Linked DNA regions of Homo sapiens: region 1 is linked to region 2. Evidence: fine-mapped expression QTL. A gene starts in region 2. The other region holds a variant in brackets. All regions are shown on one strand. Distances are between the middles of the regions. Region 1 holds the start of LOC105372630 (a long non-coding RNA gene). Region 2 holds the start of SYS1 (SYS1 golgi trafficking protein).

The links. PIP is the estimated chance that this variant, and not a neighbour inherited with it, causes the effect.
Region 1: its variant is fine-mapped to the expression of SYS1 in monocytes after triphosphate RNA (Kim-Hellmuth 2017, PIP 0.95).

What each region holds. Positions count from the first base shown.
Region 1 is chr20:45,228,638-45,243,935 of GRCh38, reverse strand. LOC105372630 (a long non-coding RNA gene) reads right to left here and starts at 13,099. Exons shown (of 3, transcript XR_936763.3): 1 at 12,910-13,099; 2 at 12,503-12,660. It overlaps LOC124904913 (a long non-coding RNA gene), which reads left to right. Exons shown (of 2, transcript XR_007067605.1): 2 at 1-4,568. The variant A/T (reference allele first, on the strand shown) is at 9,089.
Region 2 is chr20:45,351,102-45,366,399 of GRCh38, reverse strand. SYS1 (SYS1 golgi trafficking protein) reads right to left here and starts at 3,244. Exons shown (of 4, transcript NM_033542.4): 1 at 3,085-3,244; 2 at 2,707-2,871; 3 at 714-781. The coding sequence starts at 2,868. SYS1-DBNDD2 (SYS1-DBNDD2 readthrough (NMD candidate)) reads right to left here and starts at 3,231. Exons shown (of 6, transcript NR_003189.2): 1 at 3,085-3,231; 2 at 2,707-2,871; 3 at 714-781. It overlaps LOC124904914 (a long non-coding RNA gene), which reads left to right and starts at 3,032. Exons shown (of 2, transcript XR_007067609.1): 1 at 3,032-3,332; 2 at 3,574-4,044. RefSeq lists an enhancer at 3,075-3,514.

The DNA.
Region 1 (15,298 bases), 120 kb after region 2:
CTATCCAGTGGGGATAGAGTAGTCTTTTCAACAAATAATGGGGAAAAACTGGATATGCACCTGCAAAAAAATATACATGGACTGTTACATCATATCAAGTACAAAAATGGGCTCCAAATAAAACAAGACCTAAATATATGAACTAAAATTACAAAACTCTTTGAGGAAAACATAAATGTATATCTTCATGATCTGGTAATCAGCATCAATTTCTTAGATATGCTACCAAAAGCACAAGCAACAAAAGGAATAATAGATCCAAAAATAGATTAAAGTTAAAAACTTTGGTGAGTCAAAGGGCACTAATAAGAAATGAAAAGATAACCCACAGACATGGGAGAAAATATTTGCAAATTTTATATCTGATAAGGGCCTAGTATTCAAAATACAAAAAGAACTCCTAAAATCAACCATAAAAGACAAAAACCATGATTAAAAACTGGGCATCAGATTTTAACAGACATTTCTCCAAAAGAAAATGTACAAATGGCCAATAAGCATGTAAAATGATGGGTGATATCATTAGACCTCAGGAAAATGCAAATCAGAACCACAACGAGAAGCCACTTCACATGTACTATGATAGCTATAATCTTAAAAAAAAAAAACCTAAAATAACAAGTGTTAGTGAGGATGTGGAGAATCTGGAACATTCATACATTGCTGGTGGGAACATAAAATGGTACATCCTCTGTGGAAAACAGTCTGGCAGTTCCTTGAAGAGTTAAACATAGAGTTATCATGTGACTCATCAGTTCCACTTTAAGAATTATACTCAAGGTAATTGAAAACATTTTAACACAAAATTTGCACATAAATGTTCATAGTAGGATTAATAATAGTACATACAAACTAGAAACATCCAAATGTTCACCAATGGATAAATGGATAAACAAAATGTGATGTATCCATTCAGTGAAATATTATTCATACATAAAAAGTAAAAAAAAAAAAAAGATCCCACCCTACAACATGGATGAGCTTTGAAAACATAATTCTGCATGAAAGAAGTCAGATGCAATGAGCCACATATTATATACTTTAATTAATATAAAGTGTCCAGAATAAGTCAATTCATAAAAAGCAGGTTAGTGGTTGCCAAGGGAGAAGTAAAGGTAGGAGGAAGGATTGAGTGCCATCAGGTATAGGGGTTCTTCATGGGAGTAATGAAGTTGTTCCGGAATTAACAAGTGGTGAGGGTTGCACAAGCTTATCAAAATACTGAAAACCACTATATTGTACACCTTAAAAGGTGCATGTCATGGTTTGTAAATTGTATCTCAATAAGAAAGTAGCACAAATAATTAACTGAATAACTAAACAAATATAAGTTAAACACACTTGCTTTGATTCCTGGACTGGGAGACTAGATTACCACTTCTGATTCTGTAAGTGAAGTTTGTTGGCATACAACCACATCCATTGGTAAGAATGATCTTTGACTGCCTTTGTCCTATAGTGGTACAGACAAGGAGTTGCAATAAAGATCTTAAGGCATATAAAACTTACAATATTCATTTCCTGGCTCTTTGCTGAAGTTTGTTGACTCCTATGTTAAAGCAATCAAATTTTTAATGAAAAACCTTTCCAAAAAGTACACTGCTGGTCCAGGTGGCTTCACAGGTAAATGCTATTAAACATCTACAAATTATACATTCTACAAAAATGTTTTAAGACAAGAGAAGCAGAGAAAACACTTCCCAACTTCTTTTATGAGCCTAAGATAACTGTGATACTAAAACCTGGGAAGAACATTATAAAAAAGTTTACTTACAGTCTAACATCCTTCATAGACATAGGCATAAAAATCTCTAACCAAGTAGTCATAAACTCAGTCCAAAAATATGTTAAATAGATTATACATTAAGGTCAAATGAGACACACATTCAGGATATGTTTTGTATTAAAATTAGTCAGTGTAATTCACTATATGATCATCTCAACAGAGAAAGTATTTGACAAATCCAAAACCCATTTATTATAAAACTTCTCCACCTGCAAGGAAGAGAAGCTCTCCCTCTCAATATGATAAAGGGCACTATATTCAACTTAAAGCATATCTTAGTGGTGTACTGAAGTGGAAGGAGGTTATTGGAAGGAGTTCACCCCAGTTGTAAGCAATAAATAGGTCCCCCAATTGTAGAGAATTTAAGAATAATAATAAAAGTGGCTTAAAAAGCTGTACTGTATATTATCACTATGTGCTGGCAATTTTAAACAGAGTCAGAGATAAACACTCCCTCCTCCTCAGATGAACCACTCCCACTGCCACAATCCTTGGTATGCCGCTGATAAACATCATCTCTAATGGTAAAATATTGGATGTTTTCTCCTTAAGGTTAGGAGAAGGCAAGGATGTCTGTCTTCACCATTTCTACTTAACATTGAGAGCTTGGCCAGTGTTTTTGTTTATTTTTATTTTTTTTCTTGAGATGGAGTTTCACACTTGTCACCCAGGCTGGAGTGCAATGATGCAATCCCAGCTCACTGCAACCTCCACCTCCCAGGTTCAAGTGATTCTCTTGCCTCGGCCTCCCGAGTAGCTGGGATTACGGGTGCCCTCCACCATGCCCAGCTAATTTTTGTATTTTTAGTAGAGACAGGGTTTCACTATGTTGGTCAGGCTAGTCTTGAACTCCTGATCTCAGGGTGATCCACCCTCTTCAGCCTCCCAAAGTTCTGGAATTACAGGCGTGAGCCACTGTGCCTGGCAAAAAAAAAAAAAAAGTATTATAGTCTTTACATTCTTTTGTAAGAATTAAACCTTGGGATTCAAAATAGTAACATTGCTGGTTAGAAGTCTAAAGCAAAGACCAGAAAATGCTGACATGTAGAGCCAAAAATTAAGGTCAATGTGTTCAGAGAATGAATCAGGAGCACTAAGGAAAAAGCAGTCACCATCTAATCATGTTGCTTGTACCTGTTGCCACATTAGGAGTATATGCTTATCATTCTGTATGCTACTAATAGTGAGTCATTCTTGCAAATAAAATTAATTTTAATAGACGTACAAGTGAATATATATATAAATCCTATGAGTGGTGTTTCAGGAAATAACAAGTTTGGAAGCAAATAAGTTCTGAAATTGGCAATTTTGGTTTACAGTTCTGTATAGAACTGTTAACTTTGCTAAGGAGATCCGAAATTTTAATTGTTCACCTGCTAATAACTAGCATATTTCTGAGAGTATGAATATTCACAACCTACAGTTCTTTGTAAATGTGATAAACTCAATGTTTCTTAACCATCAAACCATGTCTATAATGAGTAAGCAGTGTGAAGAATGTTGGATAAACTTTAAGAACAACTTTAATTTAAAGAATTCCTGGGAATTCTGAAATATTTTTCTTAAATCTTGAATATAAATATCTGTTGGTAACTTGAAAGCACTAGAAGAAAATATCTACAATGGCAATACAAAATTATGAGTATCATAACTACACTACCATGTAGCACATATAATATTAATTCACTTCTACTGTCACTTGTTTCTATTTGAACTAGGTCACTTTAATTATATAGTCAACTTTATTGGGGCTTTTAAAAGTGGCTTGTTTATAGAATTTGTGCCAATGCTCATGTTAAGTTGAGATTTTAACCAAGAATGGTAATTATAAATTGTTATCATCACTGATAATTTGTGGGATTGAACTTCAGTCCAGAATATTATATACATTGTTAAAAAGAAATGATCTTATTAGGAAGGGGGTTAAGAAGCATTGTATATCAAGAGTGGGCATGGTGGCTCATGCCTGTAGTACCAGCACTTTGGGAGGCTAAGATGGGCGAATCACTTGAGGTCAGGGGTTCGAGACCAGCCTGGCCAACATGGTGAAACCCCATCTCTACTAAAAATACAAAAAGTAGCTGGATATGGTGGCACACACCTGTAATCTCACCTAATTGGGGGCTGAGGCAGAAGAATCACTTGAGCCTGGGAGGTGGAGGTTGCAGGCGCTTCAGCCTGGGTGACACAATGAGGGAGATTCCATCTCAAAAAAAAAAAAAGCATTGCATATCAAAATAATACATAAGAGAAAATCAATGAACTTAGAAGCAGCAACACTGTAGAATACATGTTTGTAAGAACAAAAGAAGAAATAAAGGGAAGACAAACCTTGTGGGAATATATTACAGACCACCCAACTGGTATGGTAATGAATGATACCTTCTGAAGGCAGTTTATAAAAATAATATAAAGGCAGGATAAAATAATAAGCAGTTGCTTTTATCTGAAAATTATTTCATTTATGTTATGTCTTACAGTGCCTGAGTGCATTTATAACAATAAATGCTTCTTAAATGAGAAAAAACAGGCAAGTCTTAAATTGGTAGATGTCAGCATAATGATTGCCCCTGAAGGGTTGGAATTAAATTTGAATGCGTCATAGACAACTTTCAAGGTTGATGAGAATGTTCTATATCTCCATATGATTTTGTGTAACTACACATATGTATTTGCCAAATCTCATTCAAATAAATACATTAGATCTGTGCTTTTCTTTGTATATATTTTACCTCAATATTAAGATATAATAAAAGATTGTTTTATTATTATTATTACCAAATTTGTTGTCATGCTGGAACTTTTTATTGAGCACTGGGGCTGAGATAATCTCACTCAATACCTCTGAAAATCTATATGACATGGTTATTATTATTCCCACATTAAGACGCAGGAGGTCTGGCCAGGCGTGGGGGCTCATGCCTGTAATCCCAGCACTCTGGGAGGCCGAGACAGGCAGATTGCTTGAGTTCAGGAGTTCAAGACCATCCTGGGCAGCATAGTGAAACCCCATCTCTACTAAAAATACAAAAAATTAGCTGGCCATGGTGGCGTGCACCTGTAATCCCAGCTACTCAGGGGGCTGAGGTGGGAAAATCAGGTCAATGCTGCAGTGAGCCAAGATCACACCACTGCACTCCAGCCTGGGTGACAGAGTGAGAAAAAAGAAAAAAGAAAAGAAAAGAAAAAGATGCAGAAGTTCAGCATCAGAGACCTTGCTGCTCAAGACTATGTAAGTGGTGAAAACCAAGGTTCATGCTAATTGTACATTTATGTATAGAACTGTTAACTTTGCTAGGAGATCCAAAATTTTAATTGTTCGCCTGCTAATAACCAGCATATTCTTGAGTGTATTCTCCCAGAGCATTTATGGCTCTGGCTCTTTTGCTTGTTGGCATATCAATTTAGATACCCTTCCTGACTCCATACCATTACCAGTGTGTCAAGAACACTGTTGAATGTATCTCTGGCCACACATAAAAGTGAGAATCTTGTCACCAGACTCTAGCAGGGAATTATAGCTTCCCTGATGCTAAGGCCCCTAAGCCCACCATGGTCTCTCCTCTTCAATTGCTGGGCTGGAAAAATAAGGCAGGTGGCTGAGCACAGGGCATCCGTGCTCTAGGGAACAGTGCAGTGGAGACAGGTTCTCATGCCACTGTGATGATGTCTGTTACCACACACCTACAGGCAAAATTTAGATCTGATAGAGAAGATCCTTCCTTCCTTCCTTCTTCTTTCTTTCTCTCTCACTCTTTCCTTCCTTCCTCCTCTCTTCCTTTCTTCTTTGTTTCCTTCCTTCTTCCTTTCTTCCTTCTTTCTTCCTTTTTTCTTTCTTCTTTCTTTCTTCCTTCCTTTCTCTCCTTTCTTTATTTTATCTTTCCTTCTTTCTTCTTTTTAAATGAACTCCCAGAATGTTGGGCTAGCACGCATGATCAGAATTACTACACCAAATTTTCTATGTGCAGATGAGGAACTTAAGCTTGGAGAGAAAACAGATTTAATTGAAGATGCACAGGTTCTTATGGCAGAGCTGGAACTAAAATCCAGATCTCCTATCCCCAGTCCAAAGGTTTTCTATTCTCCCATTCTGGCTTCTTCTCCTAGAGGTTTATCCTTCCCTGGAAACTTTCTTAGGAGAGGGGAAGAAGACAGTATAGGCAGCAGAGCTTCCATTTTAAGACTTCCCAACCCCCAAAACTCTTTTAGACCATCCTCTGGTATGTCTATTCACAGATTGTTTTACCCAGTCATGCTTACTGAAATGGTAGAGAGTTGCCACATCAATCGCTGGTACAAGATCTTAAGATCTTAATGGATACTGTAGGAGGAGCACAGTCCTTGAACCAAGTGACGGGTTGGGCTGCTGTGGATTTGTGGAATTGATGGCACCAGTAGATTAGGGACTAACAATCTCTCAGAAATACCAGAGAAATGTATTGCAACAGGCCCTAGCAAACCCCCTGATATATCAAGGTACAGAAAGGTCAAAGGTCACCAATCAGATTCAGTCCAAAAAATACCAGACATACATATAATAGTCAAACTATAAAAGATCAAAGACAAAGAAAGGATCCTGAAAGCAGCAAGAGAAAAGAAGCAAATAACATATAAGGGAGTTCCAATATACCTACATACAAACTTCTCAACAGGAACCTTAAAGGCCAGAAGGAGAGTGGCATGAGATATTCAAAGTGATGAAGAAAAAAAAAACTGTTATCCGTGGATACTGTACCCAGAAAAGTTGTCTTTCAGAAATGAAGGAGAAATACTTTCCTAGACAATCAAAAGCTGAAGAACTTCATCACTAACAGGCATATCTTACAACAGTGATCCTAAACCTTTTGGCACCAGGGACTGATTTCGTGGAAGACAATTTTTCCATGGATAGGGGTGGGGAGGGAGGGGGTGGTGGGGCGGGGCAGTGGGGGCCATAGGGAGCATGCAACCTAGATCCCTTGCATGCACAGTTCACAATAAGGTTCCTGCTCCTATGAGAAACTAATGCCACCCCTGATCTGACAGGAGGCAGAGCTCAGGTGGTAACGCTCACTCACTCTCTGCTCACCTCCTGCTATGTGGGCTGAGTGGGGGTGGGGGGCGGATGGGGAACCCTCTCTTACAAGAAAAGCTAAAGAAAAGATGAAAGAAAGAGTACTCATGTGTAACAATAAAAAAATTAAAAGTATAGAACTCATTAGTAGTAGAAGTAATTACATAAATTCAGAATGCTCTAATACTATAATGGTGGTATGCAAATCATATCTTTAGTATGAAGGTTAAGAATAAAAATTATTTTAAAAAAGACTCCAATAATTCAGGATGGGATATGCAGTATAAAGAAATTTAGCTCAGTGATGTCACCAAGACGACTGACTATAGAAGACAGGCACTCATTCTCCCCACAAGAAAGTACCAAAGCAATGAATAAACTGATGAAACTCGATTAGAGAGTCCAAGGAAGAGTATTCGAATATAGCAGGGGAGTGGAGATGCACCTGTGGGGATTGGAAGTCTAGCAGGGCAGCATGGATGCATCCAGCATCTGCCGCCCTGTCTTCCACACCTGGATCCGATCTATCTGGAGTCAGGAGGACATCCTATTGTGGGGAAAAGGTAAGCAAAAGAACCGCACTAGTCTCCACTACCACCACAAACACCTAAAATCCTTACTACGGAGAATCCTGCAGTACTCACACACAAGCCCTGAGCCGTTTGAAACGCTGCTAGGAATTCATGCAGGTGCATTGCTTTGAACTGAAAGCACAAGGGGTGCACTCCTCATAGTCCACCTACCCACTGTCAGCCAAGATGCTGCAGCAGGTGCCATCTTGAGACCAGAGCCACCTGTGGAGTGCGCCCTCCTGTGGAGCCCAGTAGCCACTGCACTTTTCCCTCAACAGGGCTTGGTCTTCATTCCACCAGGCCCACACCAGTGGCTGAATGCCATAATCCCAGCAGCATCAAGTGTGGATACAGGACTGGCTGTGACTCTGGTCCTGTAGAACAAACAACCCCCGCTGCCCTCACTTCCGCCTGGAGGAATGGCATGACAGTCCCGCACAGGGTAAACCTGCCCTTGAACCAGTCAAACTGCTGCACACCCTCCTCTGAGTGAAAGTGGTGCTCAGGCCTCTGAGAAGTTGACACATTCCAAGGCCTGAGAAGCAGGTACACATCCATGTCTAGGGATTAGAAACATTTCCATGGTGCCCCACCCACTCAAACAAGCCCCTGGCCTACCCAATGGCCCTGCACCCACAATCAGGGCCTGAGATACAGACCTGTGGGCTGCCCCTGGCAGACATGCCCTAGGCTGCATGAGCAGCTGTGCAGCCATGCCCTGGGACTGAGAAACAACACCACAGGCTTCCTCACCAGGGGAAGCCTTCAGGTGGGCTGAGCAGCCATTAATTCACATCCTGGGGCTGAGAAACAGAAAGCCCCAGCAGACATGCACTGAGTCCAGCCAAGCAGCCTTGCACCTGTAATCCAGGCTTGAGAAGCAGCCCTGTGGTCAACCCCTGGCAGACATGCCCCCAGGAGGGTCAATCAGCTGTGTGCCCTGCATCCTAGACCTAAGAAGCAGCCCTCTGGGGCCACCTCCAGCAGACAGACCCCCAAGTCCAGCTGGACAGCCTTGTGCTTGCATTCCAGGACAGAGAAGCAGTCTTTCAGGTTGCCCCCAGCCGACATACACCCGGGTCAGCCAAGCAGCTGTGTGACCACATCCTGGGCCTGAGAAACAGCCTCATGGGCTACCCCTGGCAGGAACACTCCCAGGCTGGCCACGCAGCCATGTACCAAACAAAAATTCTAGAGTTGAAGAATTCAATGAATAAAATAAAAAAATACAACTGTGAACTTTAACAACAGAGTAGAAATAATTTCTACACTAGAGGACAGGATACTTGAAATAATATCAGCAGACAAAAAGATAAAAAAGAATAAAAATAAATGAAGAAAGCCTACAGGATTCTGGGGACACCATTTGTTCAAAATTAAGTGAACAAGTATTCACATTACGGGCATTCCAGAAGAAAAGAGAATGGAAAATGTATAAATAACATGTTAAAAATAGCTGAAAACTTCCCAAGTATTGGCAGTGAGATGGACATACAGGTCCAGGAAGCTCAAAACACCCCATTTAGGTTCAACCCAAACAGGTCCTTTCTGAGGCACGCTATTGTCAAATTGTCAAAAGTCACAGACAAAGAAAGAATTCTTAAAACAAGAAGAGAAAAGCATCATGTCACATATAATGAAATCCTCATCAGACTAACAGAGGATTTCTTAGCAAAA[A/T]CCTTATAGTCCAGAAGAGAATGGAATAATATATTCAAATTACTAAAAGAAAAAAAAAACTAGTGGACAAGAATACCCAGCAAAATTATCTTTCAGAAATGAAAGAGAAATAAAATTCTTCATAGATAAGCAATAGCTAAGGGGATTCATCACCACTAGACTGGCTTTACAAAATATTTTCAAGAGAGTCATGTCTGGAAGTGAGAAGACAACTGCCACCATCATGAAAGTTTAAGAAACTCTAAAACTCACTGGCAGAGCCGATACACAAAGGAGGAAGAGAAAAGAATCAAGAATTGTCACCACAGAAAACAACCCAGCCCAAAACTTACAATAAGATAGGAAGTAAGGAACAAAAGATATATGAAACAATCAGAAAACAATCAATAAAATAAGAGGTTTAAGCCCTCACCTTTCAACAACAGCCCCGAATATAAATGGATTAAATTCACCATTTAAAATATGTAGACTGGCTGAATGGGTAAAACACCTAAACTCAACTGTGTCCTGCCCACGAGAACTCACATCACCTGTAAAGACATATATGGGGTTGAATTGAAGGTATGGAAAAGATATTCCATGCAAACAGAAACCAAAAGCAAGAAGGAGTAGCTATACTAATATCAGACAAAATAGACTTCAAGTCAAAATCTGGAAAAAGGGACAAATAAGAACATTATGTAATAGTAAAGGGACTAATTCAGCAAGAGAACATAATAATTATAAATATATATGCACCCAACACTGGAGCATCTGGATATATAAGGTGAACATTATTAGAGCTGAAGGGAGAGATAGACTCTAACGCAATAATACGTGGGGATTTTAACACCCTACTCTCAGTATTGGAAAGATAATCAAGATGGAAAATTAACCCAGAAGCATCAAGTTTAAACTGTACTATAGATCAAATGAACTTAACAGACATTTGCAAAACATTTTACCCAGCAGCTATGGAATGCACTTTTGTTGTATCTGCACATGAAACATTCTCCAGGATTGACCAAGTGCTAAAATACAAAAGAAGTCTCAAAAAATTTTAAAAAATCAAAATCATATCAAGTATCTTATATGACCACAAGGAAATAAAACTAGACATCAATAACAACAGGAACATTCAAAACTATACAAAATATATGGAAATTAAACGACATGCTCCTGAATGACCAGTGGATGAAAAAAGAAATTAAGAATAAAATTAAAAATTCCTTGAAACAATCAAAAGTAGAAATACAAAAAAACGAAACTTATGGAGCATGGCAAAAATAGTATTAAGAGGCAAGTTAATAGCAATAAGCCCCTACATAAAAAAACTGGAAAGATATCAAATAAGTAACCTAACAATGCATCTCAAAAAACTAGAAAAGCAAGAACAAGCCAAACCCAAATTAGTAGAAGTGTTACATGATCTTTGGGGTGTTCATTTTCTTTCCAGAAACCTCTGTGGCTGGTGGCACCTTTGCCTGAGTTCCTGTTCTGCATCCAGAAAGAATAAGGTACACAGACAAGTGAAGGGTGAAGACGATGAAGAAGAGCTTTATTTAGTGTTAGAAGAGCTCAGAGGAGACCTGTAGTGGGTTGTTACTCTCTGTAGGCAGATCATCCCTTGAGTATTCAGCTCTCAACAGAGAGGGGGCCCTGGAGAGGGTGGCTCCTCTCTGCAGGCAGGGTGTTCGGATGTCTGCTGGTCTTTGAAGCTCTCGCAGAAAGGGTAGCTTCTCTCTTCGAAGCTCTTGCAGAGAGGGTAGCTCCTCTCTGATGTGAAAGATAGAGAGATGATGAGGAAAAAGGACATGTTTTTTTTCTTCCCTAATAGATGTTACTAACAAATGAACATTGTAGTTAGATTCTATTAGAAACCTCATAGAGTAAGATACCCATTTGATTTAAATGACAACATTTATCATATACCTAAATTTTTATCTCTTGAAACTATGCAATGATGATAAAATTATTAGATGTCAGTTTAAAACATGCTTGGGAAAAAGTAGTTTTTCAAAATTGTTAAGATACTTGTCAGAGATAAATAAAATTTTGGAAAATTACTTTCCCAGACCTCTGCAACATTTGTGGGAGTTAAGGAAGAATGAAGCACAGAGTTATAAATTTGGAAAATTCATGGCTAATTACACTTCATTATTAGGTAGACCTAGGGCCCAACCCTCAAGCAAAGACTCAAGGGATGTAGGCTGAACCACAAGGATTTTGTTCTCCTAATTTAGGGTGGCTCAATTTTTAGGAATGAAAGTACCTAGAACTAAAGTACATCTTGCTCAGTTTCTGACCCTAAGTTCCAAATCCAATCGCAGATCATATTACTTCAACACTTGGAAAGGCCACCAGCAGTAGTACCAGAAAAACTGAAGCAAAAATGCCTTGCTCTTCCATTACAGGATTAATCGGCATGCCATTCATAGGATGCAAACCCAGAGAATTTAACTCCAAAATGCACCTGGAATCTGACCAACAGAGAATCTGAGTGTCAGGAGATATTGAAAGAGACAAATATATCAGAAAAACACAAGTGCAGGAATTGATGAAACTAAATGTGAAACAGTAACTCTGTCCATTTTACAGTTCCTAAGGGATTATGCAACATGGCTGAGTAGAGAGGGAGAGCAAGAGATCAATCCAGCAGACTTAGATTTTCAAAGAGTTTTAAATATACAACGCTTTATTTCTTCGTCTTGTTATCATAGTAAGAAGCATTTAACTCTTGCTAAAAGGAAGTTCTGGGCCTGAGCGATCATGGACAACATGGAGACCAGTTATCCCAGACTGAGCCTGTAGCACTTGTGTCTCCTCAGTCCTGGTTAAGAAGGGCTTTCCATCTTGGGAGAGAACAGGAAACCAGAGATATAGGAAGATGCAAAATGTACAGGGCACATGGTTTTGTGTCCCGGGGGCATTGAGGCGTGATTCCTGTTAGGTATTCTCCTCACAAGAACACTGGCAGGTGCTGCCAAAGAGTCAGGGACTGGGGATCAGGGACTCTAGGCAAGCCATCCTAAGGAATTGTGAAATTATAAACTTACCTCACGATGTAAATGTAAAGAGGAAAATGTTTCATGATTGTAAACTGTAAGTAAAAGGATTTGAAAATAAATAATAAAATCCAGTAACTATTGAGTACCTTAGAGATAATCTTGTTGAAATGTCGACATTATAGAGAGTTATAGAGAGGAGAAGAGTGATGCCCATTATGTGAAGTGGAAGGTGCATATCTGAGCAAAGAGGTCTGTTGAGCCTCCTCCTTCACTTTAGAGAGGCAAATGCGTGGACTGACCCAATTTAAAAGCCCTGCTCACAACGGTTGCTAAACGCATGGGAAGTTCTCAGTTCTCTCTAAGACAAATGCTTCTGAGGGAAGGAGTTAGGGGCAGCAAGGAGAACAGCAGATCTGGGGCTCCTCACCTCAATCCAAAGTCCACCAGGGCTCCATACACTGATGCCGACAGTTGTAGTAGCAACACTTCTTGACCCCCTGCAACTCTTATCACGCCAGCGCATAGGTAAGAGAGTGAAAGGGCAGTCAAGATCAAACTCTGGGCAATATCCCGGTTTCCGTGCAGCTGGAAAAAACGCCATAGGTCAGGAGGCTGAGGCAGGAGAATCGCTTAAATCCAGGAGGCGGAGGATGCAGTGAGCCGAGATCTCGTCACTGCACTCCAGCCTGGGTGACAGAACGAGACTCCAAAAAAAAAAAAAAAAGCCGTAGGATGAGTGGGCACCAATGTGTGATTTCCAGGCCAGGTCACCCCATGGACTCCTCAGAGGAAACGTTCCCAACCCCAGCCACACCCAGGGTCGCCAGGCCCTACCTGCACTCCTCAAGACTCCAGGCTGGGTCATTCAGAGGCAAAGGAGGATGTTCACAGAGAGTAGAAAGAAGCCGCTCAGCTTCATAATGCAAGAAAACGGTGTGGGGGCACCTGGAGGCTGGACCTGTCTATGTCAGCTTTGGCGGGGCCCCATCAACAGATGGCGTTTTGACTCCCGGGGCTGGAGGTCAGAGGTGCCTCCGCTTAACCCGGAAGCACCATCTGTTTCCTTTCACCTCCAGGAAGAGACAACGTGAAACAACTGGGATGTAACTTCTGAGAGCCCTCATGGACTGCCTCCTTTCAGGGTGTTACAGAACTCTTCATCATTTTTACTTCATCCAGCAGATTTTGAGGCAATAGGACGCCATTGTCTGGATCCTCTTATGTATTCTCCAAAGAACACTGGCATGTGCTATCCAGGAATCAAGGACGGGGATCAGGGATTCTAGGCAAGCCATCCTAAGGAAGTGTGAAATTATATAAACACTCACAATGTAAATATGAAGAGGAAAGTGTTTCATTATTATAAGCTGTAGAAAATAGGAATAAAAAATAATAAAAACCCGGTAACTGTTGAGGATCTTAATGAATCTTGCTGAAATATCCTCTTTACAGAGAGGAGAAGGGTGAAGTCCGTTGTGTGAAATGGAAGGTGCATAATCTAAGCAAGGAGGTCTTGCTTCATTGTCCAGAGGCAGATCTATGGGTCGACCCAATTTAAAACCTCTGATCACAACGATTTTCTAGGGGAACATGAAGTTCTCAACTCCTTCTAAGACAATGCTTCTGCAGGAAGGTTTCACGGGCAGCAGATCTGGGGCTCCTAACCTCAATCCAAAGTCCAGCAGGACTCCATACACTAATGCCGACGTTCGTAGTAGCAACACCATTTAACCCCTTTGCAAATTTTATCCTGCCAGCACATGGGTAACAGGATGAAAGGGCAGGCAACAGAAAACTCTGGGCAACATTCAGGTTTCTGTGCAGCTGGAGAAAAATGCCACAGGGTGAGTCGGGGACACCAAGTGACTTCCAGGCATGAGGGCCAGGTCGTCGCATGGACTCCTCAGAGGAAATGCTCCCCAACTCCAGCCACAGTACGCGTCGCCACGCCCTACCCGCCACTTTTCAGGGCTCCAGGCTGGGCCATGTGGAGGAGGCAAAGGGGGACGGTCACAGTGAGTTGAGAGAGGCTGCTTAGCTTCATAATGCAAGAAAAGGGATTGGGCGCACCTGGAGGCTGGACCTGTCTATGTCAGCTCTAGCGGGGCCCCACCAGCAGGTGGTGCTGTGGCTCCGGGGGCTGGAGATCAGAGGTGCCTCAACTTGACCCGGAAGCACCAGCTGTTTTCTTTCACTTCCAGGAAGCAACCACGTGAAACAACTTCTGGGGTGTAATTTTTCAGAGCCCCCATGGATTTTCCTTTTTTCGGGGTGTTGCAGAACTGTCCTGGCTCTTCCTAATTCTTACTTTATACTGTCGAATTTTTAGGTAATAGGAGGGCATTGTTTTTCCCAGGGACTGCATCAGGACTGACCAATTTCCCTCTTCCCACTGTGTATCCAGAACATTTGAAACCGACTCCTCACAGCCATGTTCAGATAAGGGTGCATTTGAAGTGTTTACTTTTACTACATTAACATTGAAACACACACAGACAGAAAGTAAGAGCCAGATATTGATCTATTAGCAAGATAATTTCTAGATTTATGAAAAATCTAGTTCCTTGTGCACCACAGGCTTTAAGTTTAATTCGTGAAAAATTTTTCTCATTTAATTCATGTCTTAATGTCTTCATGACTGTGTCAAAACTTCACTAGTTGATAAAGTCAAAAGGCCAACTTATGGCTTACAGGACTTAAGATCATTGGTGTCCATTCATTATCTGACTAGTAAGCAAACGAAACAGGGAATTTAGTGGCTGTACACGATGCATAACACAGACTTTACAAAATTAGTCCAGGAATGTTACTAAGCAAGTATTCAGCAATAAAAACCACACAAACAAATGCTAAAGATAGATTCTGATTTCCAAAGCTGCCAAATTATATTACGTAGAAAGTACAATTTTATTTAAAAATTATGAGATGTTTAAAGAAACATGAAATACTGCCCATACACAGAAAAGAGGGGAAACAATAAATAGAAATGATCCTTTAGGAATCCCAGACAATGGCCTAGTGGACAAAGATATCAGTTATTATACTCAAAGAACTAAAGGAAATCATGGGCAAAAAGATTAACAGAAAGTATAAAAATCAGTTTCACATCATAAAAAAAATTCATGATGAATGATGAGGTTGTAAAGTAAAATCGCTGATACAGAAAGTCACAAGAGGGTCTTACCAGCAGATAGGAATAGACAGAAGAGAGGAACAACTACTA
Region 2 (15,298 bases):
CTGGAAGACAAATTTAGGTCAAAGTCAGCCCACCAGTTTTCAACCTCCGGTGTAAGGACAAGAATAATAATAACATGCAAGGCACTGTTCTAAGTCCTTCTTGTGAATTAACTTATTTAATCCTTACAACTATGAGGTAGGTAATATTACTAGCCCCATTTTACTGATGAGGCAACTGTGGTAGATTAACTTGTCCAAAGTCACTAGACTAGTAGTAAAGCTGAGGTTCAATGCCAAATGAGTCTGCCTCCAGAGCCTGACACCTTGACCACTATGCTAAACTGCCTCTTAAGAGACAGGCAATGATTACGTGTGACCTTAGACATCACTGAGTCCAAACCCTCATGGACAAAAGAGGAGCCTGAGGCCCATGGCAAGTAACTTGGCCAATGGCACACAAACCAAGAACAGAACCCAGTTCTCCTGCCTCTCGGTCGAATCCTTTCTCAGCTCACTCCACATCAGGGAAGTTATCTGAGATGGAAGTTGTCTTGCAGGCAGCACAAACATAGTGACATAAGAGCTTTCCAGGTAAGTCAAAACAGCAATGGAAGGAGGCCCATTATACAGCTGGTCCCAGAACTGGCCTCTGTCACCCACTTTACTCCACCACTCCCCAGAAACAAGTGCCAGCCTGTCTCATGTTCAAACTTAGGAAGTTAGTCCCAGCACTAAGAGCCCAAAAGCTGGATAGCAAAACTGGTGATACTCACCAGGTGAGGGCGTTGAGGATGAAGGACATCATGGAGAGCCGGCCTGGAGGGGTGGAAAAGCCCAGGATCTGAGGGGGAATCACAAATGGAAATATACTGGAGAAGTGACTTGGCAGAGCCCCAGGATCTCAGCAAGCCTCCTAAGGAACAAGCATTCTTCCCAGAGCACAGAAGATAATACCTCCCTACATCTGTACGGCAGCCTATTTCCAATAGGTGCTTTCATAGACATCCATTATGGGATTTCATTTGTTTCTCACAGCAGGTGGAAAGGGATTATTCTCATTTTACAAAGGAGGACGTAAAAACTCAGACAAGTTAAGTTGCCCAAAGTAATAAACAACAAGAGTAAAGTCTAGAACAGCGTTCAGCTGACTATGGCTCCATAGGCCTGGCATCTGCTCCTGTACATAAGGTTTTATTGAAACACAGCCACACCTATTCACTTATATATTTGTCTATAGCAGCCTTCTGTGCTACAATGGCAGAGCTGAATAATTGTGACCTAAAATCCTTACTACTTCACCCTTAAAGGAAAGGTTTGCTGATCCCTAGGCTAGAACTCAGGTTGTGTGCATCATATGGCTCTTCAACAAAGCCTGGCATTCCCACAGCTCTTCCCAGGAGCATAGAGTCTCCTACGAGACTACAACTAGGCATATGGTGGGTGTGCAACCTCCACTATCCAACACAATACTATCAAATGCCAAACATCTGCACCACACTTTCAGCTGACAAAGAAAGGTCTTTGACATACATAATCTCATATTATCCCTAAAAAAACCTCACAAAGCCATTCTTCTTCTTTTAATTCTTATCACTTTTTGGATAATAACTTGCCCAAGGGCTAACACAGAGAACAAGCAGCAGGAGCAAGGACTCCATCCCAGGTCTCCTGGCTTTAAGAACTGTGCTCGGCCGGGCGCGGTGGCTCACGCCTGTAATCCCAGCACTTTGGGAGGCCGAGGCAGGCGGATCACGAGGTCAGGAGATCGAGACCATCCCGGCTAAAACGGTGAAACCCCGTCTCTACTAAAAATACAAAAAATTAGCCGGGCGTAGTGGCGGGCGCCTGTAGTCCCAGCTACTTGGGAGGCTGAGGCAGGAGAATGGCGTGAACCCGGGAGGCGGAGCTTGCAGTGAGCCGAGATCCTGCCACTGCACTCCAGCCTGGGCGACAGAGGGAGACTCCGTCTCAAAAAAAAAAAAAAAAAAAAAAAAGAACTGTGCTCATCACCACGCCACAGCTGCCTCTTAGATGTAACAACTTATAGGCCTCCTTTACACTTTACAAAGTACCTTCTTATTCCTAAACCCCTCTGGGCCTTGTAACATTTTGTTGAGGGCAACATGGTAGGAGCATCCGGCCCACTTTTCAGAAAAGGCTCAGAAAGGGGAAGCAACTTGCCCAAGGTCCCACAGCTAGTTTTATATGTTTAGGCCTAGACTGAACCCTTGCTTTTCTGAACCCAAAGCACATGCTCTTTATATTGCAGTCCACGACCTCTCTGCAACTAGTCTCATGGTTTTGAAGACAGGAAAACAAGTTCACAGAGGTGACATTTGCCCCAGGTCACACAGCTAGTAAGTGGATCTTAAACGGACGCCTGTCTGACCCCAAAGTCCAGGCAGTTTCCACTGTACCCGCACGAATGCTCTTTTATCCACCCCTCTCTCCGATGTGGCACCTGAGAACCTAGCTCAGAGAAATCAAGTCACTTTCCCAGAGTATCAGAAAGGAAATGTATCAGAGTTGCCTGGAACACAGACGTGTTTATTGTATTAACATCCAGGCCCTTTTCTTTGTACTAATCAGCCTCTGCTGTCATTCCATTTTATGGATGAGGCAGCTGAGGCTCAGAAAGGTGAAATCCCTTTCCCAGGGCTACAAAGAAAGAAGGTGACCCAGCCACGTCTACAGCACAGTAGTGATGGACCACAAAGCCTACTCGGGGAGGCCGAGACCCCACCCGCCCCAGTCCGGGGACCCTACCTCGGCGTCGAACATCTGGTCCAGCGAGGGGCTGCTTCGCACTAGCCCGTCCACCAGCGCCAGCCACAGGCCCAGCGAGCCGTAATACACGGTCTGCATGAGGACGATCTGCGACAGGATCAGCAGCGGGTCCCACACGTAGCTGCGGAACTGACCCGCCATGCCCTGCAGGGACACGAGCCGGGCCTCAGCCAGCGGCCTGTCTCCATGGCAACGTCGCCCCGCCCGGGAGGAGGGACTGGAACCAAGGGGTGAGCCCATTCCAAGAGTCAGGGGGAAGGCGGGGCAGACAGACCCATTCTCAGAGTGAGGGGAAATCCAGCCCATTCCGCCTGCGCGGCCCCCGCCCGTACACGAGCTCCTCTGGGGTCTACTCACCAGTGACAGACTCGACGATCGAAGTGTCTGAGCGTGGCCCGGCCTCACCGGCGGGCTCCCAAAACAGCGCTGACAGACAGGACCATGGAGGAGAGGCGCTGCCGGCCTAGAGAGGCAAAGCTCCAGCGACCACGGCGGCAGGAGCGGCTGCGTAGGAAAGAAACGTTTCCGGGGAAAGCAGCGGAGGGGCGGGGCTGAGGTTGCGCAGGCGTAGTGGGTGCAACCTCTGCCTGAACCTCCTGAACCAGGTACAAGCAGCCGGATAGCGAACTGAGCACATGCGCAGAAGGAAGAGTGAAGGCAAACGGAAGAGAGGAACGAAGGCCGCAGAGCTTGCGCGCCCTCTAGAGGGGAATTCTTTTTTTAAAGGAAGGCGGCTAGGGGAGAGGCAAGTGGGGTGGCTTAGGACGCGGTAATGATGTTTGGGAATTAACGAGGTGATAAACTGTGTCGTTATTTTCAGCCTAAATTCTCAATGTTTTCTCCTAGTTAGAGTCTGATAACTTGAAGTGGACCTGCAAGCTCCTCCACGTAGGAGTTTGCCAATGTTCCCGCTGTACAGATAGTTAAGCTAAGGGCCAGAGAAGGAAAGCAACATACTGTTTCAACGACACAGTTAGTAGCAAAGTAAGTATTAAAATTCAAGTGTTGGTCGGGCGCGGTGGCTCACGCCTGTAATCCCAGCACTTTGGGAGGCTGAGGTGGGCGGATTACCTGAGGTCGGTGTTTCGAGACCAGCCTGACCAACATGGAGAAACCCCGTCTCTGCTAAAAATACAAAATTAGCGGGGCGTGGTGGCGCACGCCTGTAGTCCTAGCTACTCGGGAGGCTGAGCCAGGAGAATTGCTTGAACCCGGGAGGCAGAGGTTGCAGTGAGCCGAGATCACGCCATTGCACTCCAGCCTGGGCAACAAGAGCAAAACTCCGTCTCTAAATAAATAAATAAATAAATAAATAAATAAATAAAATTCAAGTGTTTCCTCAACACTACAACATTGATTTCGCACCTACTCGGTGGCAGGAAGGCTAGAACATGTATATATAAGACAGCCCCTGCCCTGAGACACAGATGAACTATATTAGAAGGCAGAGTAGTGGGTGTTTTAAAATGTGGGTGTCCAGTGGAAAAAGGCACAGGTTCTGAAGTCGCACATAGGAGTAAATCCTGACCCTCTCTGCTGCCATGACTGTTTTATCTATCTTCCAAATCCGAATAGTGGACAGTCAGTAAATATTTGCTGAATGAGTTAAGAACAGAAAAAGCAAGAGCAAATCGATAACTCACTTATTCCTACTCCAGCAGACGAAAACCCATCAACTTCATTGATCCTAGGTTCCCCCTCTCTGAAGTGGAAAGACGGGAAGTAAGTTGTTCCAGGAAAAGAATTTGGGTTTTAGGGCCAGCTATGCCACCCAGTGTGACCAGCAAGCCACTTCCTTCTTTAAACCTCAGCTTCCCTGTTTATGAAATGAGGAGTTGGACATGATTAACGTTTTCCACCATTTAATCTACCTTCCAGTAATTATTTTCTCATTAAAAAAAAAACTTAGGCTGGGCACAGTGGCTCATGCCTGTAATCCCAGCACTTTGGGAGGCTGAGGCGGGCAGATCACAAGGTCAGGAGTTCAAGACCATCCTGGCTAACATGGTGAAACCCCATCTCTATTAAAAATACAGAAAATTAGCCGGGCCTGGTGGCAGGCGCATGTAGTCCCAGCTACTCGGGAGGCTGAGACAGGAGAATGGCGTGAACCTGGGAGGCGAAGCTTGCAGTGAGCCGAGATTGCGCCACTGCAGTCCAGCCTGGGCGACAGAGCGAGACTCCGTCTCAAAAAAAAAAAAAAAAAAACGTATCAAAGAGCCATGTAACTGCCAATCAGAATTTCTGAACAGCTTGTGGTAGCCGTGTTATCACCTTGAGCTGATACAATTCCAGACAAAAGTAAAGAAACTTGAGACTTTATTGAGAGTGTGCGATTGTCCTTATCATTTGGAAATACCCTGAACAGTTCCCCTGGACTCCAGTTGGGGAGTTATTAAGGCCCAAAGATTTCTTAGGTGCTTTCCAGCTCAACCATTCTTTTAGGCACCTCAATTCAGTCCAACAAATATGTATTCAAATTCCTCTAGTTCACTGATTATGCACATGATCTAGTGTTTCTGAGAAAACATCTGTTTCTTAAGTGCCTACATGATCTTGTTTAATTCTCACAATCTGAAAATATAGCTATTGTCCCCTTTTTATAGGGGAGGAAACTAGGCTTGGGGGGAGGTGGTGTGACTCTCTAGGTCAGAGAGCTCACAGGGAGCAGAGCTGAGATTCAAATTCAGGACAACTGACTCCAAACATCAAGATGACTTTTAGTTTAGTTTTGGTTTGGTTTAGTTTGGTTCTTTGAAACAGGGTCTCAATCTGTCACCCATGCTGGTTTGCAGTGGCGCAATCATGGCTCACTGCACCCTCAAACTCCCAGGCCCAAGCCTCGGCCTCCCGAATAGCTGAGACCACAGGCATGTGCCACCACACCTGGCTTTTTTTGAAACGGAGTCTTGCTCTGTCGCTCAGGCTGGGGTGCAGTGGCATGATCTTGGCTCACTGCAACCTCCGCCTCCCGGGTTCGAGCGATTCTCATGCCTCAGCCTCCTGAGTAGCTGGGATTACAGGTGTGTGCCACCATGCCCAGCTAATTTTTGTATTTTTAGTAGAGATGGGATTTCACCATTGTGGCCAGGCTGGTCTGGACTCCTGACCTCAAGTGATCTGCCCGCCTCAGCCTCCCAAAGTGCTGGGATTATAGGCATGAGTCACCATGCCTGGCCCGCACTTGGCTTTTTTGATTTTTCATTTAATTTTATTTTTTTGTAGAGACAGGGTATCCCTATGTTGTCCAGGCTGGTCCTGAACCCTGGGCTCAAGCAATCCTCCCACCTTGGCCTCCCAAAGTGTTAGGATTACAGGCATAAGCCGCTGTGTCCAGCCAAGATGCCATTTTAGAATAAAAGAACAGGAAAGAAGGGAGGAAGGGAGGGAGGGAGAGGGAAATAAAGGAAGGGAGATAGTAAAATAGGTGGTGGAGTAGCAGGAAGTGGAAAAGGGGCAGTGAATCTCTCTGCTCAGTTAGCCCTGGGGTGAGGGATTAGGGAGAAATGGGAGGAAAGGCTTAGAAAAGGGCTGCAGAGGTTGACAATACCCAGGGCAGCTGTCTTCCTTGCAGATGCTGGAATGCGTGGCTCTTCCTGGGCTCTGCTCCCTTCACGTCACAGCTGGGCCCACTCCACCCCATCTCCTCCCAATAGGAAAGGCCCTGCCTACCCATTCTGCTGAACTAGAAAACACAGGTAGCTTTTGATATTAGGGCTGGCTGGAATGTCTGATGTCATCCCTGGAGTCCGGAGCTCACCTCTGGGAAAACCCCACTGGGCGTGCAAGCTAACCTCCTGCCCTTTCCTTTCCCCTTTGGGAGTTCAGTTCTTGGATTCCCGCCTTGCCAAGCTTCGGAAATGTACATCATCCTCCGTCTTAATTTGGATCCAAGAAGGAAACCAAGAGCTGGGGAAAATCATGGCAACCCCTTTGTTTAGCTTCATTGGCCCATTTTCAAATTTGACCACAAGCAGTCTGCTTCAGACCACAGAGTCTGAACTAGAGCCCCACTGGCTTGCTATGTGACCTTGGGCGAGTCCCCTGGTGGGTCCCAGTATCCCAAACTATCAAATGAAAGAGGGACATTGGACTCCGACTTGCAGATGCTGTCATGGCCCTGTGCCATCTGAATCACCTGAGGAACATACTGGATATTCAAATTTCCAGTCCTTGTTTGCAAACCTAAGTCCAGTTCAAGTCTCCCAAAGCAGAGTGTGGAAATCTGTGTATTTAGAGAGCTCCCCAAGTGATTCAGAGGTGCACCCACATTTGATAACTACAGCACAAGATGATCTGTAGTTGACCCTAAACCGGCTCCTTCATCCAACAGAAAACTGCTCTGTGACCTTGGCGAGTCACATTCCGGCTTCAGGGTTTTCTTCCATCTGTAATATGAGGGGATTGGATTTGAATAGCTAGCTGGTCTACGAGGGTTCTTCCTACGCTGCCAAGTCTGTGGTTCCAAACTTATGAATGAAATGTTAAACTTCAGGTCAGAGGCAGAGTGACGAAAAGCCACAAGCTGGGACAAACTGTCCTTTGGGTGGAGGGGAGGGGAGTGCCTCTGGTCACTTGGTCTCTTTCGTCACTTTCACACTGGGGCCCCACTGCATGCATGTAAGGACAATCGCTAAGGTCACCTTCTGGATCCACCCCCATAAATCCCTTGGGAAATGTTCTCCCATAGGCCCATAGGCTTGAGAGCCCTGCTTAGATTCGAATCCTGGCTCTCTGGCTGTCTTGCTGTCCTGCTGGGTGACCTTGGGAAAGTTACTTCATGTCTCTGAGTCTCAGTTGGTTTCCTCTTCTATAAAGTGGAGTTCAGAATAGTACCCATGTTATGGGCTGTCCTGAGGGTCAAATGTGTGCTTAGTCCACTGCCTGATATGCAGTGGGCACTATGTTAACCTCAGCAATGTTAATATGATTGTTATTATTTCTTCCTCTGGAATGTGGGAACGGAAATGCCTGATCTCAGATTTATGGCAAGGATCTAACAATGTATCAGACAAGTCAAGCCCGGTGGCTGGCCCATAGTAAGAGCACATTAAATGTGATACCTTCTCTTCCTCCTCTCACCCCTACTGTCGTGTTCTCTAGATCCCTCCCTCTCTCCCTTCCTCCCCCTCTCCCTTCCTCCCCCGCTAGGCTGCCCTACTGCCCTGCTCACATGTTTCCTTTCAGGGAATATTTGATGAAGACACTTCAGTAGAAACACGTGTCTCAGGGACACGTTATGCAACTCTGTGCTCACAGGTTTTTGGAAACCCCACGTGGGAGGCTTGGAGTTGGCTGCCTGTCCTCTACATCGGTGACCATCCTGGGCTCTGGCCAGTGAGTTCCTCTCTTAGAAGGAAAACTGGAGAGAGAGCTCATTAGCTGCCTGGTTTCTCCTCCAGACCGAAAACCCCTTTGTTACCCAGGTTGCTTTAAGTGCTGTTTGTGTCTGTGTTTGGGGAGGAATATTTGCTGAGCATCTACTGTATGACAGGCACTTATATAATTTAATCCTTATTTAATTTCTAAAACAAGCCTGTGAGTTGAGAACTATTAATAGCCCCACTGAACACATGCAGATCCTGAGGCTCAGAGAAGGGACATTTACCCAGAGCCATGCTGCCAGTGAGTGGTAGAGCTGAACTCCAACCCAGGCCAGTTTGACTCCACACACTATTCCTTCTCAGTGTGTAACAAAAAGCGCACTGAAGGCCAGGCAAGGTGGTTCATGCCTGTAATTCCAACACTTTGGGAGGCTGAGGTGGGTGGATCCACCTGCAATCAGGAGTTGGCGGCCAGCCTGGCCAACATGGAGAAACCCTGTCTGTACAAAAAATACAAAAATTAGCCAGGAGTGGTGGTGCATGCCTGTAATCCCAGCTACTTGGGAGGCTGAGGCAGGAGAATTGCTTGAACCTGCGAGGCAGAGGTTGCAGTGAGCTGAGATTGTACCACTGCACTCCAGCCTGGGTGACAGAGTGAGACTCTGTCTCAAAAAAAAAAAAAGGCACTGGACATTACAGTGACATACAGCTTTCATCTACCTGACCTCATCTTATTGTTGCAACAGCCCCAGGGATGTAGGTATAAACATTGTCCACATGTTACAGGTAAGGAAATTGAGGCTTAGAGAAGGAAGTGACTCACACTCAGTACACATTGAGGTGTGGCATGTCTTGTCAGCTGGAATAATCAAAAGTTAAGAAACATCTGGGGTGTCTGTCTTTCCACTCTAACTTTCCACCCCAACCTCCCTGTTCTTTCCTTCACACCAGAGGGAGTCAGGAAACTGGTTTTCTGTGTTCTGTGTCTAATGATCAGGGGTTTTCTGCAAACCCTCTATCTATGCAGGGTGGATGATGCCAGGCATGACAGTGGGTGGAAGGACCTCTGAGTACAGCCATCCCTCAGCATCCATGGGTGGTTGGTTCCAGGACTCCTGGCAGATATGAAAACCCAGAGAAGCTCAAATCCTTTATATAAAATGGTATAGTATTTGCATATAGTCTATGCAATCTTCCCACATTCTTTAAGTCATCTCTAAACATCTAATACAATGTAAATAGTTGTGAAACTATATTTTAATTTTTATTTGTATTATTTTCATTGTTGTACTGTTGTTTTATTTTATTTTATTTTTAAGACGGAGTTTCACTCTTGTTGCTCAGTCTAGAGTGTAACGGTGTGATCTTGGCTCACTGCAACCTCCGCCTCCTGGGTTCAAGTGATTCTCCTACCTCAGCCTCCTGACTAGCTAGGATTTACAGGCATGTGCCACCATGCCCGGCTAATTTTGTATTTTTAGTAGAGACGGGGTTTCACCATGTTGGTCAGGCTGGTTTCGAACTCCTGACCTCAGGTGATCTGCCCACCTCAGCCTCCTAAAGTGTTGGGATTACAGGTGTAAGCCACTGTGCCCGGCCTTTGTTGTTATTTTAGAGACAGGTCCTTGCTCTGTCACCCAGGCTGGAGTGCAGTGGCGCTATCATATCTCACTGCAGGCTCACACTCCGGGGCTGAAGCAATCTTCCCACCTCAACCTCCTGAGTAGCTGGGACTACAGGTGCATACCATCAGGCCTGGCTATTTTTATTTTATTTTATGTAGAAAAGGAATCTCACTATGTTGCCCAGGCTGGTCTCAAACTTCTGGGCTCACGTGATCCTCATGCCATGGCCTCCCAGAGGGCTGGGGTTACAGGCATGAGACACTGTGCCCAGCCTCACACCTTCAAGTTTTCTTACCTTGATTCTTGACCCCATCCATCATGTACTAAACTTTCTGTCCCTACCTAGAAATTATTCTTTATTCTGACCTTAAAGGACTCAGGGCCTTGTTTTAAGATGAAAAGTTGTTTTTTTACACTTCCTTTTTATCATTATTTATTCATTCAATCATCTACTTGATAAATATTCATTGAGCATTTATTATGTGCCAGAAACTGATCCAGGTGGTATGGATATAAATGAATAAAGTGAATAAAGAGAAAATACTCTAATCTCATAGAGGAGAGAGATGATAAACAAGTCAATCAACAATATAAAATCTAGCGTCAAGGAATGTCAGTATACTCAGAACACCAACAGTGTGGGATTCTGTTATAACATCAGAAAATGGATGAATACAATATTTATCTCTGCTCCTTTTAGGACAGGACACTTGGGAATCAGGAACAGGAATCAGGGCTGTAAGTTCAGTGAGACAGCATGGTGATGCAGACAGAATCAAAGAAACTTGAGTTTGAATCTTGTATCAGTCAGCTTTTGCTACTTAACAAACACCCCACAAATCTCAGGGGCAACAGAAATGGATTTCTCAATTGTAGATTTGCAGGTGGGTTAGGGCAGCTTTGTTACAGTTACGGTTTTGTTGTCATTTCTCCTTGCTCCGCCTGTTTTCTCATCTGTAAAATAGAGATAAAACTACTTACTTCACAGCATCCAAGTGAAGATGATGCTCAACACTCCCTTCTGATTAAACATACACTCTGCTCAGGGTATGTGAGAAGCTAAATGTTCAACCTCTAGGCCAAATAGTAATCCAAAAAGTGGTCTGGGCTGCAGGCGCTTACTTAAGGAATAAGGAAGGCCATTGGCCAAGCCAATGAGTCTTGTGGTCCCCTCCCAAAATTTAGACTAGAAGAGAGAACCAGTAAGTCAGTAAAAGAGAGAGAGGCACACATCCAGGAAAAAGAAGAGACACTCTTAAAGAAAGAATAAGCAGGCTTAAAGAGCAAGAGATGAGTCAGCCAGTCTGTGGCATCATCTCAGTCCTTGATGTTTCCCTTTCAGTTTTAACCTTTAGCCCTCCCGGTCCTCCTAATAACTCCTAAGCCTTTTCTTAAGGAGTCCTGAGTGAGGCATGTTTCCTCGCAATTGCAAGAACTGAGCTAAGACAGAGAAGATGCATATAAAGTTGCCAGCCCACAGCTTGGCATATAGTAGATCCTCAGTCTACTGTATAGCTGGCAGCTATTGTCCGCTAATCAGGGAGCTGCTTAAGAACACGGACAGGTCTTGTTCACCAGGATTTATCAAAAAGCTTCTCACATACAAGATATTCATCAGATGTTTTTTGGATAAATGACCAAGTGAGTGAATTGCTACATCTGAGCCTCTAAGGGAAAATGTCCAAATGGCATTCATCCAGTTATCCATGCGACAAGTATTTACTGAATGTAAACCTCTGCCAGACCTTGGACAAGGTGCAAGGGATGCAGTTGTGAACACAACAATGTTCTTGCCCTCATGAAACTTACATGTGGCAGAGAAAACAGAAAATAAACAAGTAAAAGAATAAGTGCGTGATGGCAGGTAAGGGAAATGTTACGACAAAAAAATAAAGCAAAGCAAGTGGAAAGAGTAATTGGAGGTGTTATTTTTAGAATTCTTCAAAATGCCTGTGGTGGATGCTGATTCACCGTGTGGGCCTCGGTTTGCCTATCTTATAATGCGGGTACTGTTGGACTGAATGATTTGAGAGGACCCTTCTGGGCCTAGTGTTCTTAGTTTCTGTGGTTATGCAAGGCAGTGGCTGGACATTCCACAGCCCCTGGAAACTCTAAGCTGTCATTATCTGTAGCTGGAGAGAGATTTACATAAACTGAGGAAGACCAGAAAGGGTTGGCACCATCCTGGGCGAGAGCCCTATGGCCCAATCCTTTTTCTGTTCTGAAAATAGTAATGTGTTACCTGTTATTAACCATGTGTGAGGAGCTGCTGGGGAGGGGAGTAAGTCAAGACTCTTATGGGGAGGCCCCCTTGATTATAAAAATAGATAACACTTTGATGCTCCGTATTGTGCTAAGCACTGTAGTCTTAACATTTTTATGATGTTAAGAACTATAATGACCCTCAAATTACATGGGGGGACACATGAGAAAACTGAGGCACAGAGAGAAAAAGTGTCTTGCTCCATACCACCAAGATTGCAATCTAGGTCTCTTTAACTTTGAAGACTGTGCTCTTCACCTAAAACTAACATGAGTGAGAAAGGGATGCCTGCCCAAAGAGTGGGACAGATAGAGTCCTAGAAACCTCAAGGCAGGAAGAAATGAGAATTAAAAGAAGAGGATGGAGGATTCCAGGAGAAGGTAGCATTTAAGGTGTCTCTGGATGTACCAGGTGTGCACCTAGCCTTGGTTAACTCCGGCCTAGGAAGTCTGAGAAAAGGGGGAGGGACACCACCTCTGCTATAGGCTGGGTCTGAGCTCATTTTTTAGCTCCATGGGAGGGGGCTGCCTGTTGATGTCCTAGATCATTTCCTTTTGCTTGAAAGGAAGCTAGGGGGAGGATGTAAAGTGTTTGACCAATGCCATCTCTCAGACTCACTCAATCTCAGGTTAGAATATACAGAAAGAGTGCTGGACCCAACATAGGTGAGTATATGTTATGTGTTCACCACTTCACCTTATTCCATTCTCCTAATTAGTTCAAGAGGGAATTATCTCCATTGTAGGGAGGAGCAAAGGGACTCACAAACTTTCCTCCAGTTGGCAAGTCCTGGAAACAGGATTTTAATGAAGAACTTCTGGCTGTAAACACTGTGGGTTTTGTTTGGTTGTTTGGGTTTTTGTACCTCAGCCCCATGCAGGAAATTAGGAACTCCTATTCAGTATTACAAACCTTTGACTACTGCATTTTGTTTTTTGGAGGCCAAAGAAGAACCCAATAAAACTTCTCAAAGAATCTCAGGTTTTGGACAAATTATTTTTAACTCTTTGGGGGTCAGGATCACCCAAAAGGAGGATCCCCCAAACATCCTCTTTTTGTGGATATAAAGAAAGAATCTGAAGTTTCTTGCCCCAAAATAATGTATGCAGAGACACATAACCTAGAGGAGTACTGACCATGCATGTGTCCTCTGCCCCCAGTCATGGAGCCCAGGTTAAAGACCCATACATCCACAAATAATTATATTCAAACATGTTGCATCCCTTTAGAGATTCTCAGAACTTGGGGAAGGGGAAATTATTTCCTTAATTCCAGGAGGTTAAGATAGTTTTATAGAAGAACTTCCATTAACTCTCTAAACGAGCTGTTTTCAGTTTTTGTTTTTGTTTTTTTGCTAGTGTACTCTGTAAATGATTATTTTAAGACTAGGTACTCCTTGACATAATTTTTAGTTGATAGCTTAACATTTTTCATCAAAAGTTTAAATAGTTGCAAAGGTTGTAATTTCTGGCATATTGTAAATTTATACACGTAAAAGTAAAACAATTACATCACTCTTTTAAATGTATCCAGTTAAATTAAATGCCCTAGCAATTCGATACCTACAATCATCCATTTAAAAAATACATGAACAAGCTCTTTTCTAAGAGTCAGACATTTTGCATCATTTCTTTTTCTATTTGAAGTCAAATTTCTACTCCATGTTCCACCACAAAATTTTATCATAATGTGTTTTTTTTTAATGCGTCAGAGGCTTACTGATGACTCTTTTAAAAAGTCCTGCAATAATTTAAACAGCTTCATTAAGGTACAACTGGCATAAAATAAGCTATACATATTTAAAGTATACAATTGACATAAATATATGCTTGCTGTGTTAGGCTGTTTGCGTTACTATAAATATATGAGATTGGGTAATTTATAAAGAAAAGAGGTTTAATTGGCTTACAGTTCTGCAGGCTATACAAGCATGGCTCCAGCATTTGCTTCTGGCGAGGGGCTCAGGAAACTTCCAATCATGGCGGAAGGTAATGGGGTAGCAGACATCTCACATGGCATCATCAGGACCAAGAGACAGGGAAGGTGGAGTTCCCAGACTCTTAAACAACCAGATCCAGCGTGAACTGAGAGTGAGAATTCATTTATCACCAAGTGGATAATGCTAAACTATTCATGAGGGATCTGCCCCAGGATCCAGTCACCTCCAGGCCCCACCTCCAACATTAGGAATCACATTTCAACATGAGATTTGGAGGGGACAAACATCCAAATCACATCACTCTCTAAACCAGTCCTACAAACTTTGATAAATAATTATTAAGTAGAAAAAGTAAAGTTGTTTTAGAAATACCTGTCTTAATTAGGTGGCTGTGGCAATTTTTCTCTCCAATTAGCTCACTAAAACCTCCATGAGATTGGGTATAGTCGCTCATGCCTGTAATACCAGCACTTTGGAAGGCCGAGGCACGCGGGTCACTTGAAGTCAGGAGTTTGAGACAAGCCTGGCCAATGTGGCGAAACCCCATCTCTACTAAAAATACTAAAATTAGCTAGGCATGGTGATGTGCACCTGTAATTCCAGCTACTTGGGAGGCTGAGGCACAAGAATCACTTGAACTCAGGAGGCTAAGGTTGCAGTGAGCAGAGGTTGTGCCACTGCACTCCAGCCTGGGTGATGGAGTGAGACTTTGTCAAAAACAAACAAACAAACAAACACCTCAACGAATATTGCTAGAATGAAACAGGTTTTAGCAATAATTTTATTCCTATTTTTCATTTTTTATAGCTGTCAAACCATGGTGTGGTAAAGCCATCTTGTAGTGGTTCATGAAAGTCAATTTTTAGAAATTTTGTGGCTGGGTGCCATGTAATCCCAGCACTTTGGGAAGCTAAGTTGAGAGGACTGCTTGAGCCCAGGCCTTCAAACCCAGCCTGGGCAACATAGTAAGACTGTGTCTCTACCAAAATAATAATAATAATAATAATAATAACAATAACAATAATAATAATAATTAGCTGTGCGTGGTGGCGTATGTCTAGTCCCAACTACTCAGGAGGCTGAGGTGGGAGGATCTCGTGAGCCTGGGAGGTTGAGGCTGCAATCAGCCATAATTTTGCCACTGCACTCCAGCCTGGGCTACAGAGAGAGATCCTGTTTTTTTTTTGTTGCTTTTTTTTTTATGTCATTAGCCAGTTGTTAAACATAACTATTACTAAAAATTAATTTATATGAACATACAATTATATTAAAAAAAAAGGAGGCCGGGTACAGTTGCTCACACCTGTAATCCCAGCACTTTGAGAGGCTGAGGCGGGTAGATCACGAGGTCAGGATATCGAGACCATCCTGGCCAACATGGTGAAACCCTGTCTCTACTGAAAATACAAAAATTAGCCGG